Homo sapiens: one gene and its partners. The protein of the gene in region 2 purifies or fractionates together with the protein of the main gene of each other region. This does not show direct contact. Each region holds a gene or a part of one and is shown on either strand. Other genes may lie near its edges.

What was found.
Region 1: the proteins of SETX (region 2) and CCKBR purify together in Homo sapiens (co-immunoprecipitation; one large-scale study listed by IntAct). This does not show direct contact.
Region 3: the proteins of SETX (region 2) and PAK2 purify together in Homo sapiens (affinity purification with mass spectrometry; one large-scale study listed by BioGRID and IntAct). This does not show direct contact.

Annotation. Positions count from the first base shown.
Region 1 is NC_000011.10:6,266,252-6,269,905, forward strand, and holds part of CCKBR (gastrin/cholecystokinin type B receptor), read left to right. Parts: intron 1-3,417; coding exon 3,418-3,654. UniProt on the Homo sapiens protein: Receptor for gastrin and cholecystokinin. The CCK-B receptors occur throughout the central nervous system where they modulate anxiety, analgesia, arousal, and neuroleptic activity.
Region 2 is NC_000009.12:132,344,900-132,348,553, reverse strand, and holds part of SETX (probable helicase senataxin), read left to right. Parts: intron 1-2,082; coding exon 2,083-2,293; intron 2,294-3,654. UniProt on the Homo sapiens protein: Probable RNA/DNA helicase involved in diverse aspects of RNA metabolism and genomic integrity.
Region 3 is NC_000003.12:196,742,796-196,746,449, forward strand, and holds part of PAK2 (serine/threonine-protein kinase PAK 2), read left to right. Parts: intron 1-3,654. UniProt on the Homo sapiens protein: Serine/threonine protein kinase that plays a role in a variety of different signaling pathways including cytoskeleton regulation, cell motility, cell cycle progression, apoptosis or proliferation.

The DNA of each region.
Region 1 (3,654 bases), on a different chromosome or scaffold from region 2:
GAGGCCAAAGCAGGTGATCACCTGAGGTCGGGAGTTCGAGACCAGCCTTACCAATATGGAGAAACCCATCTCTACTAAAAATACAAAATTAGCCGGGCGTGGTGGTGCATGCCTGTAATTCTAGCTACTCAGGAGGCTGAGGCAGGAGAATCGCTTGAACCCAGGAGGCAAAGGTTGCGGTGAGCCAAGATCATGCCATTGCACTCCAGCCTGGGCAACAAGAGCAAAACTCCATCTCAAAAACAAAAACAAAAACAAACAAACAAACAAAAAACATGGAGGTAGTATGATGAATAACAGAGTACTGCAGGAACAAACAGTAGGAGGCAAAGCACATTAGGGATCAGGGACTTGGCTTCTATTCTGATTCAGCCCCTTATCAGGTGTGTGGTCTTGAGCAAAGAATGTTACTGCTGAGTTCGGTTTGGAAGTTTTTATAAATAGCATTTATTTGATGCCTACAATTTCTAAATAAATTGGTTTTTGTTATGAGAAAATACAGTCATGCATTAACTAATGATGGGGATACCTTCTGAGAAATGCATCATTAGGTGATTTCATTGTGTAAACATCATAGAGTGTTTGTCACACAAACCTAGAAGGTATAGCCTACTACATACCTAGGCTATACGGTATAGCCTACTGCTCCCAGGCTGCAAACCTGTACAGTATATTACTGTGCTGAATATTGTAGGGAAGAGTAACACAATGTTATGTATTTGTGTATCTAAACATAGAAAAGGTACAGTGAAAATACAGCATAAAAGATAAACCATCATACACCTGTATAGGGCACGTACCGTTAATGGAACTTGCAGGAGTAGATGTTGCTCTGGCTAAGTCAGTGATGAGTGGTGAGTGAAAGTAAAGGCCTAGGACATTACTGTACACTACTGTAGACTTTATAAACACTGGATACTTAGGCTACACTAAATGTATTTAATAATAAATTAAACTTAGCATACTGTAACTTTTTACTTTATAAACTTTTTGACTCTTTTGTAATAACACAGTGTAAAACAAAAAACACATTGTATGGCTATACAAAAATATTTTCTTTTTTTATACTCTTATCCTATAAGCATTTTTCTGTTTTTAACTTTAGAAAAAAAAAAAACCTTTCTGTTAAAACCAAGACACAAACACACACATTGGGCTACACAGGGTCAGGATAAATATTGCCATCTTCCACCTCTACATCTTGTCCCACTGGAAGGTCATCAGGGCAACACCACACATGGAGCTGTCATCTCCTATAATAACGGTGCTTTATTCTGGAATACATCTTAAAGGACCTGCCTGAGTCTGTTTTATAGTTAACTTTTTTAAAAAAATAAGTAAGAGTATACTCTAAAATAATGATTGAAAGTATAATGTAGTAAATACATCAACCAGTCACACAGTCATTTATTATCACTATCAAGTATTATGTACATCATTGTATGTGCTAGGCTTTTATATGACTGACAGCACAGTAGGTTTGTTTATACCAGTATCCCCACAAACACATACGTAATGCATTATGCTGCAATGTTACAATAACATTACTAGGTGATAGAAACTTTTCAGCTCCATTATAATCTTTTGTTGTTGTTATTTTGGGTTTTGTTTGAGACAGAGTCTCACTCTGTTGTGCAGGCTGGAGTGCAGTGGCACTATCATAGCTCATTGCAGCCTTGAACTCCTGGGTTCAAGCAATCTTTCTGCCTCAAACTCCTGAGTAGCTATGACTATAGGCACGTATCACCACACCCAGCTAATTTTTTATGTTTTGTAGAGACGGGACTTTGCTATGTTGCTCAGGCTGATCTCAAGCTCCTGGCCTCAGGTGATCCTCCCGCCTTGGCCTCTCAAAGTGCTGGGATTACAAAGATAAGCCACTGCACTCAGCTGTTCATTACAATCTTATGAGACCACCATCGTATATGAAATTGGTCATTTACCAAAACATCGTTATTCAGTGCATGGCTGTAGTTTTCAATTTGGGAGCTAAAATGAGAATCAGTCAAAGTATGGGGCTCTGGAAGAGGGGGCTGCAGCTTTGAGGCTTTCCTTCTCTGCAATCTAGGAGGCTCTGTCCCCTGCCCTCTCTACCTTCCAGCTCTAATCCCTCTCATGCTGAGGCCATAGGTGTGAGTAATTCAGTCCTGTTCAATCCAATTCGATTTTATCTAAATCTGCTTGGCTGTGATGTGGTGGTCCAAAGATTAATCCATCTTTTAATAGACAATGACACAAAAGAATGGGGTCAGCCTCCCAGCCCCTCTGCCTCACACAGGTGTCCCTCCTATGAGCTCCAACAGCACCTTATACATCCTTCAGCCTCACTCCTTATCACATCTGTTTATGTATCTGAGTTTACTTCCCCACTGTGAGCTCTCAAATGGCAGGGATCTTGTCATGTTCATCTCTTTGTCCCCAGTGCCTAGCACAAAGGGAGTCCTCTGTAAATGTTTATAGAGTGAGAATGAATGTTTGGAGAGAATTAAAATACAAGGCAGAAGTAAAATAGGCTGTAATAGTTGTGTAAGAAACAGGCATGGGTCAGAGAAAGAGGAGAGTAGAAGGGCCTTACAGAAGGGCCTTACAGAAGAAGTAGCAGTCAATTTGAGTCTTGACCAACAAGGGATGAATAGGAATTCACCAGATACAGAAAATAAGCTTGTGATGAGGGGTAGAAGTTGTGAGGAGGGTTGGTAAAAGAGTATTCCGGTCTGAGAAACCAGCTTGAGCAGGGAGAGAGTCACAAGTGCAAATGATGCATTCAAGAAATTGAGTCATCCAGTGGCTTGCTTAAATGCCTGCTGTACAGGGAGGGGGTGGGAGAGAAAGAAGTCCCTTCTGGGAGGATCTTGATGATATTCTGAGGGGTTGCAGACAGTAGAGAGTAAGTGAAGTATTTTTTTTTTTTTTTTTTTTGCTTTTGTTTTTAGAGAATAAAGACATGATCTGATGTGATTCAAAAGGTAGTGGGTTGTCAACAGTGTAGAATACTCTAGCGGGGTCAAATAGAGTAGGCTAAGAAAGGACCTTTGAATTTAGCAGTTAAAGATTAGTGTACTTGGGAAGAAGTATGCACTGATAGGGCACAGAATATTGTATTGTAATGGAATGAAGAGTAAATGAGAAGACACAAATATCCTCTTAAGAAGTTTGTCTGCAGAAAGAAGGAAAGATTTGGAACGAACCTTGAGAAGAGACAGGCTTTCTTAAGGAAGGGCAGAGTTGGGCCAATTTAACCAAACCTCAAGGGGTTAGAAGGCTAAAGGATTCAAGTTCACCATTTACTGAGCAGTTCATCGGTGGGGAATGTAGGCATCTGGCTGGGTAGTGAGGGTTGGGGATAAGACGGAAGGAGGGGGATTTGACTGAATGAAGGCTGACCCCCTACTGCCACCTCTCCCTTTTCTTACCCAGAATTGGAGCTGGCCATTAGAATCACTCTTTACGCAGTGATCTTCCTGATGAGCGTTGGAGGAAATATGCTCATCATCGTGGTCCTGGGACTGAGCCGCCGCCTGAGGACTGTCACCAATGCCTTCCTCCTCTCACTGGCAGTCAGCGACCTCCTGCTGGCTGTGGCTTGCATGCCCTTCACCCTCCTGCCCAATCTCATGGGCACATTCATCTTTGGCACCGTCATCTGCAAGGCGG
Region 2 (3,654 bases):
CTGGATCAGAATTTTATGATCTGTTGCTTTTAGTCACATTGGTATAAAATAATTTAATGAAATAAAGTCATTGGGAGGGGATTTGTTTCATAATTTTTTGGTCAGTGCTATAATACATGCATGTATCTGAGTATCTGAATGGCCTGGGTTTTTGTTAGTGGGTTGTTTTTTTTTTGTTTTGTTTTTTTTTTGAGACAGAGTCTCACTCTCTTGTCCAGGCTGGAGTGCAGTGGCGTGATCTTGGCTCACTTCAACCTCTGCCTCCCAGGTGGGTTCAAGCGATTCTCCTGCCTCAGCCTCCCAAGTAGCTGGGACTAAAGGCACGTGCCACCACACCCGGCTAATTTTTTATTTTTAGTAGAGATGGGGTTTTACCATGTTGGCCCAGCTGGTCTCAAAACTCCTGACGTCAGGTGATCTGCCCACCTCGGCCTCCCAAAGTGCTGGGATTACAGCTGTGAGCCACTGCGCCTGGCCAGGGTTTTTTTTTTTTAATTGGTAATAATAACTTCTTTTTTTCTTTTTTTAATGGGCAAATGGCATAAACCTTTAAGGGCAAGCATATTTTCCAGTCATGATAACAAAAGTGAAAGATATAATTCTAAATATTTGGCTTTGAATATTTGGTTTATTTATTGATGAAAAACAGAACGTAGACCATAGAGATATATACAGTATATAGAGGAGAGGATGATTAGTAATGGACTTGTGTTGAGAAACGTGCACTTTATAAAGTTTTCTAATTATGAAGCTATCCAGCGTCTTTTATACCACAAGCTGCACTAAGGTAGTTAGCTATGGCTAGAACATAGAAGGGAAGACATAGAAGGGCCTCGGTTTTGCATTTGACAGAGAGGCTCCAGCTTCTCTTTTTTTTTTTTTTGAATGTAGTTGATAGGGATGTTGAGATATTTATAGAAAACTTCTACAAGAGAAGTGTTTAAGGCTGAGTGCTGTAGCTTACACCTGTAATCCCAGCACTTTGGGATGCTGAGGCAGGTGGATTACGAGGTCAGCAGTTTGAGACCAGCCTGGCCATCATGGTGAAAGTCCGTCTCTACTAAAATACAAAAATTAGCCAGGCGTGGTGGTGGGCGCCTGTAATCCCAGCTACTCAGGAGGCTGAGGCAGGAGAATCGCTTGAACCTGGGAGGCCAAGGTTGCGGTGAGCTGAGACCACGCCATTGCACTCCAGCCTGGGCGACAGCGAGATTCTGTCTCAAAAAAAAATAAAAAGTGTTTAAACATAGCATACTATTTTTTGTTTTCTTGTTTTTTTTCGTTTGTTTGGTTTTTTGTTTGAGATGGAGTTTCCCTGTTGTTGCCCAGGCTGGAGTGCAGTGGCGTGATCTTGGCTCACTGCAACCTCCGCCTCCTGGGTTCAAGCGATTCTCCTGCTTCAGCCTCCCGAATATGGGATTACAGGCATGCACCACTACGCCTGGCTATTTTTGTATTTTTAGTAGAGACGAGGTTCCTCCGTGTTGGTCAGGGTGGTTCTGAACTCCCGACCTCAGGTGATCCGCCCACCTCAGCCTCTCAAAGTGCTGGGATTACAGGCAGGAGCCAGTGTGCCTGGCCTGTTTTCTTTTTCTCTTAGAGGCAGGGTTTCCCTATGTCATCCAGACTGGAGTACAGTGGCACAATCATAGCTCACTGTAGCTTCAGATTCTTGGGCTCAAGTGATCCTTTTGCTTCAGCCTCCAGAGAAGCTAGGACTGTAGGCATGCACCACACCTAGCTAATTTTTCTATTTTTTTTTTTTTTAGTGACAGGGTCTTGCTTTGCTACCCAGGCTGGTCTCGAACTCCTGACCTGAAACAGTCCTCCTACCTCAGCCTTCCAAAATGCTGGGATTACAGCTGTGAGCCACTGTGCCTAGCCAATATCTCATACTCTGTGTACTCACTTTTCATAAAAGTGGCCACATTTGAATAGTTTTCTTTAAATCTAAAATACAAGCTCTAATACTTTACATTTCAGAATTTTTGTACTTAGGAAAAGGCTTTCTAGGTCGTCACATTCAGTGTATTTTGTTGATGATAAGACATAACGCACACTGCCCATTTTATTTTCCTCTAGGTTTTATGGGAATTAGAAACCTTACGTCTCATAAATCACTTTGAAAAATCCATGAAGGCAGAAATTGGAGATGATGATGAGTTATATATAGTAGACAATAATGGAGAGATGCCACTGTTTGACATCACTGGGCAAGACTTTGAAAATAAGCTTCGAGTTCCTCTTCTTGAAATACTGAAATATCCTTACTTGCTTCTACATGAACGTGTTAGTGAGTATCTTGATGGTTCCTCAAGTTATATCAGTTTTATTATTTTAGTACCATAAGAATTTAGGCTTATCTATATTGCAAATTTGTTTGCTAAACATATAATTAGGATATATAATTAGGACTTCATTTTTTTTCCAACGTTTTTTATTTTTTGAGTTCAAACACAAAATACCTATTTTTGGGGCACAGTTCAAACTTATCTTGTTCAGAGGGTAACTGAAGATTGTTTTTATTTTTTTTTAGAGACAGGGTCTTGCTGTGTCTCCTAGGCCGAAGTGCAGTGGCGCAGTCATGGCCCACTGCAGCCTCTACCTCCTGGGCTCAAGTAATACTCCTGCCTGAGCCTTGTGGGTAGCTGGGAGTACAGGCGTGTGCCATTGCGTCCAGCTAATTTTATGTTGTGTTTATTGTAGAGATGAAGTTTCACTGTTGCCCAGGCTGGTGTTGAACTCCTGGGCTCAAGCAGTCCTCCCACCTCAGCTTCCCAAATTGCTGGGATTATAGGCACGAGCCACTATGCCTGGCTCTCAACATTTTATTGTGAAAATTTTTTAACATAGAAAAGTAAATTATACAGTGAACATGATATACCCATCACATAGTTTATACGGTTGTTAACATTTTGCTATATTTGCTTTATTACGTATCTGTTCACCTCTTTGTTCAATTATTAATAATTTTCATTCTCGCCGGGCATGGTGGCTCACGCCTGTAATCCCATCATTTTGGGAGGCTGAGGCAGGCAGAGCACCTGAGGTCAGGAGTTCAAGACCAGCCTTGCTAACATAGTGAAACCCTGTCTCTACTAAAAATACAAAAATTAGCCAGGTGTGGTGGCAGGCACCTGTAATCCCAGCTACTCAGGAGGCTGAGGCAGGAGAATCACTTGAACCTGGAAGGCGGAGGTTGCAGTGAACCAAGATTGTGCCACTGCACTCCAGCCTGGGTGACAGACAGAGACTCTGTCTTAAAAAATAGTAATAATAATAATTTTCATTCTTGTAGTATGTCTGTGGCAGGGTTTCTCAGCCTTGCATTGGTGACATTTTGGATAATCCTTTGCTGTGGGCTGTGCCGTCCATTGTAGGATGTGTAGCAGCATCCCTGGCCTTTGTCTACTAAATGCCGCTAGCACTCCCTATCTCCTTTGTGACAACCAAAAATGTCTCCAGACATTGCTGAATACCCCTTTTGGGGGGTGAGGTATAAAATCACCCCTGGTTGGGAAATGCTATTCTGTAGTAATTTTCATTAACCACTATGGCATGGCTTATTATAGCTGTCTAGATTTTGGTTGTTGATATTTGCATTTCATAATACGAATCTCTTGAAAGTAAAGGCATTTCCCTAACCTATCAAAT
Region 3 (3,654 bases), on a different chromosome or scaffold from region 2:
AGTCCCAGCTACTCGGGAGGCTGAGGCCGGAGAATGGCGTGATGAACCCGGGAGGCGGAGCTTGCAGTGAGTCGAGATCGCGCCACTGCACTCCCGCCTGGGCTACAGAGCGAGACTCCGTCTCATTAAAAAAGAAAAAGAAAAAGAAACTGGGTCAACTTCAAGACTTTAAGTCGTAAAGGTTTCCATCAGTTTGGTATAAGAGTTGAGTTTCCAGACTAATCAGAGGGAGGGTGTTAATTGCAAATTGTGTGTCCAAGCTCTTCCTAGTATCCTTTTTGTGCCTTAACAGAGCAGAATAGGAAAGGAAAAAAATCCCTCATTGCCCCCAAAAAATAAAATACTGGTTGTTTTCTTCTGTGATCAGAGTTGAGTTTCATCACTTCTTCCCTTCTAGGGTCACCTGCCTGGTTAAGGGTAGTCAGTCTGAACATTCATTCAGGATTTCAGTGTTCCAGCCTACTATCTCTGAGTTTCTTTAGTACTTACTCCATGTATCCCATGTGGTTAGGAGCTAGAGTCCTGCGTTTGAATTCTTGCTGTTCTACTTTACCCTGGGCAAGATATACATTCTTTTCAAGACTTGCTTTTCTCACCTGTAAGATGGGGATAATAATAATAATACCAATTTCACAGGGATATTTAGATCAAATGAGGGAATGCAGGTAAAGGATTCTGTAATTATAGGTCTTAATAAACGTTAGTTAATAGTCTGTTCTTACATGCTGTAGAGTCGATACTCCTAAACTTAGAATTAAAACTGCCTTCTAGGCCGGGTGCGGTGGCTCACACCTGTAATCACAACACATTAGGAGGCTGAGGTGGGCCGATCACTTGAGGTCAGGAGTTCAAGACCAGCCTGGCCAACATGGTGAAACCTATATTCTCTACTATTCTTTAGTAGAGAATTTAGTATTCTCTACTAAAAATAAAAATATTAGCTGGGCGTGGTGGCGGGCGCCTGTAATCCCAGCTACTCAGGAGGCTGAGGCAGGAGAACTGCTTGAACCCAGGAGGCAGAGGCTGCAGTGAGCTGAGATTGCGCCACTGCACTTCAGCCTGGGTGACAGAGTGAGACTCCGTCTCAAAAACAAACAAACAAACAAACAAAAAACTGCCTTCTAAAAGAACGAAGTTTCTGAGACCGTAACTAAAAATAAAAATTACTTTTGGATGAATAAAATGTAATTTTTCAGGAGAAAAAATATGTAATAGTTTCACCACTGAAATAAAACATAGGGTTTTTGAACACAAATTTCTCAGATTTAAAAATATGCATATTTCCTGTATAAAAGTTGAAAAGTGGGCAGTGGCTGGTGGTGCCTGTAGTCCTAGCTACTTGGGAGGCTGAGGATCCTTTGAGTCCAGGAATTTGAGGTCAGCCAGGACAATACAGGGGGACCCCATCTCTTAAATCAGACAAAAATAAAAGTAGAAAAAAATATTAAATAAGAAATTTGGAAAGTGGTAAAAACTTTTAAGACAAAATTACCTTAGTCTCAGCTGGCAGAACCATTGTAACAAACTGGAACAGTGGTTTTGTTCCTTATTTTAAATTTAAATTCTAAAAGCAGTACATATTTATTATAAAAGGTTCAAACAAGTCAATTAAATATTTAAAGAGTGAAAATTCTTTGGGAGACTGAGGCAGGAGGATCACCTGAGCTCAAGAGTTGGAGGTATAGTGAGCTATGATTGCACCATTGCATTCCAGCCTGGGTGACAGAGCAAGACCCTGTCTTATAAAATTCTTAAAAAGTGAAAATTACTTTCTCTTTTTAGTCCCATTCCTTAGAAGTACCTACCCGCTGTTAATAGTTTTACTTACTGAGTTAGAAATAAGTAGTACCTTTTGTGTGTCGGATACTTTTTATGTTGATTTTAAAATAAAAAATCTGATCATTAAGTATTGTTTTCCATATCATGACATATAGTGGCACCTCTACTTTTTAAGTCATTAGATATTATGCTGTATGGTAGTACTTTAATTATTTGTGATCATTTATGTTATTTCTAACTTTGAGCAACTAAAACTAGAGCCTTAATGAACTTATACGTATGTCTTTGTGCACATGCATATGTAGATAAGTATTTCCATTAAAACGACTTGTAAGTGTGCATTTAAATTTCTTTTTTCTTTTTTTTTTGAATTGCATTCCAAAAAGACTTGTAATGTATATTTCCTTATTGAGTTGTAGAAGCTCTTCACATGTAATAGATATTAATCTATTGCCTTCTGTTTAAGATCTTCCTCATTCCACCTTTACAAAAAACATTCTTATGTGTTTTCTTCTGGTACTTTTAATAATTATTGTGTTTCAATCTTTTTTTTTTTTTTGTGACAGAGTCTCACTCTGTCACTCAGGCTGGAGTGCAGTGTTGGATCTCAGCTCACTGCAACTTCCGCCTCCCGGGTTCAAGTGATTCCCCTGCCTCAGCCTCCCGAGTAGCTGGGATTACAGGCACCATACCATCGCACCCAACTGATTTTTTTTTTTTTTTTTTTTTTGTAGAGACGGGGTTTTGCTATGTTGGCCAGGCTGGTCTCAAACTCCTGACCTCAGGTGATCTGCCTGCCTTGGCTTCCCGAAGTGTTGGGATTACAGGCGTGAGCCACCGTGCCCAGCCCATTGTGTTTCAATCTTAATCTTTCTGGAATTTTTTCATGCCTGGTGGGGATAAAAGAGTTTTAAAATAGTTTTGCTACAGAAATAAAATACAGGTATAAAAATATTTGGCCGGGTGCAGTGGCTTACGCCTGTAATCCCAGCACTTTGGGAGGCCTAGGTGGGTGGATCACCTGATGTCAGCAGTTGGAAACAGCCTAACCAACGTGGTGAAACCTTGTGTCTACTGAAAACACAAAAAATTAGCTGGGTGTGGTGGTGCACACCTGTAGTTCCAGCTACTCCGGAGGCTGAGGCAGGAGAATTGTCTGAGCCCGGGAGGCGGAGGTTGCAATGACCTGAGATCAAGCCACTGCACTCCAGCCTGGGCAACAGAACGAGACTCCATCTCTAAGTAAAAAAAAAAAAAGAAGAAGTAGTAACTAGATTTTTCTGTTCATTGGTATTTTTATTATCTTACTGGACTTCAGTAAACGTCTTTATTTTGTTTTCCAGGTTCATTGTTTTATCTGAGAATAATAGTAACTTCAGTCACTTTTCTATGGTTACAATATTTAACCTTTTTTTTTTTTCTTTTTCTTTCTTTTTTAAAGACGGGGTTTCACCGTATTAGCCAGGATGGTCTCGATCTCCTGACCTCGTGATCCGCCTGCCTCAGCCTCCCAAAGTGTTGGACAGGCATGAGCCACCGTGCCCAGCCCTTAACCCTGTTTTAGGTCTTTATTACATTGGCCTGAAGTTCCAAGACTTGGTTAAACAAGAGACGTGTCGTTGTCTTGAAATGACTCTGGTATTAATATTTTTACAGTTAGGGATGATGGCAGCTGTTGGATTTAGAGAAAGATTATTATTTTATTCTGTTTCTGCTTTACAAAAAATAGGAATGGCTTCTGAATTTTATGAGATGCTATTGTAACATTTAGATGATGATATGGTTTTCTTCTTTTAACTATTGCTGAGGATATGTAATAGTAAATTTGCTATTAATCAAAGGTATCACAAGGTATATATCGTGAATAACCAAAAT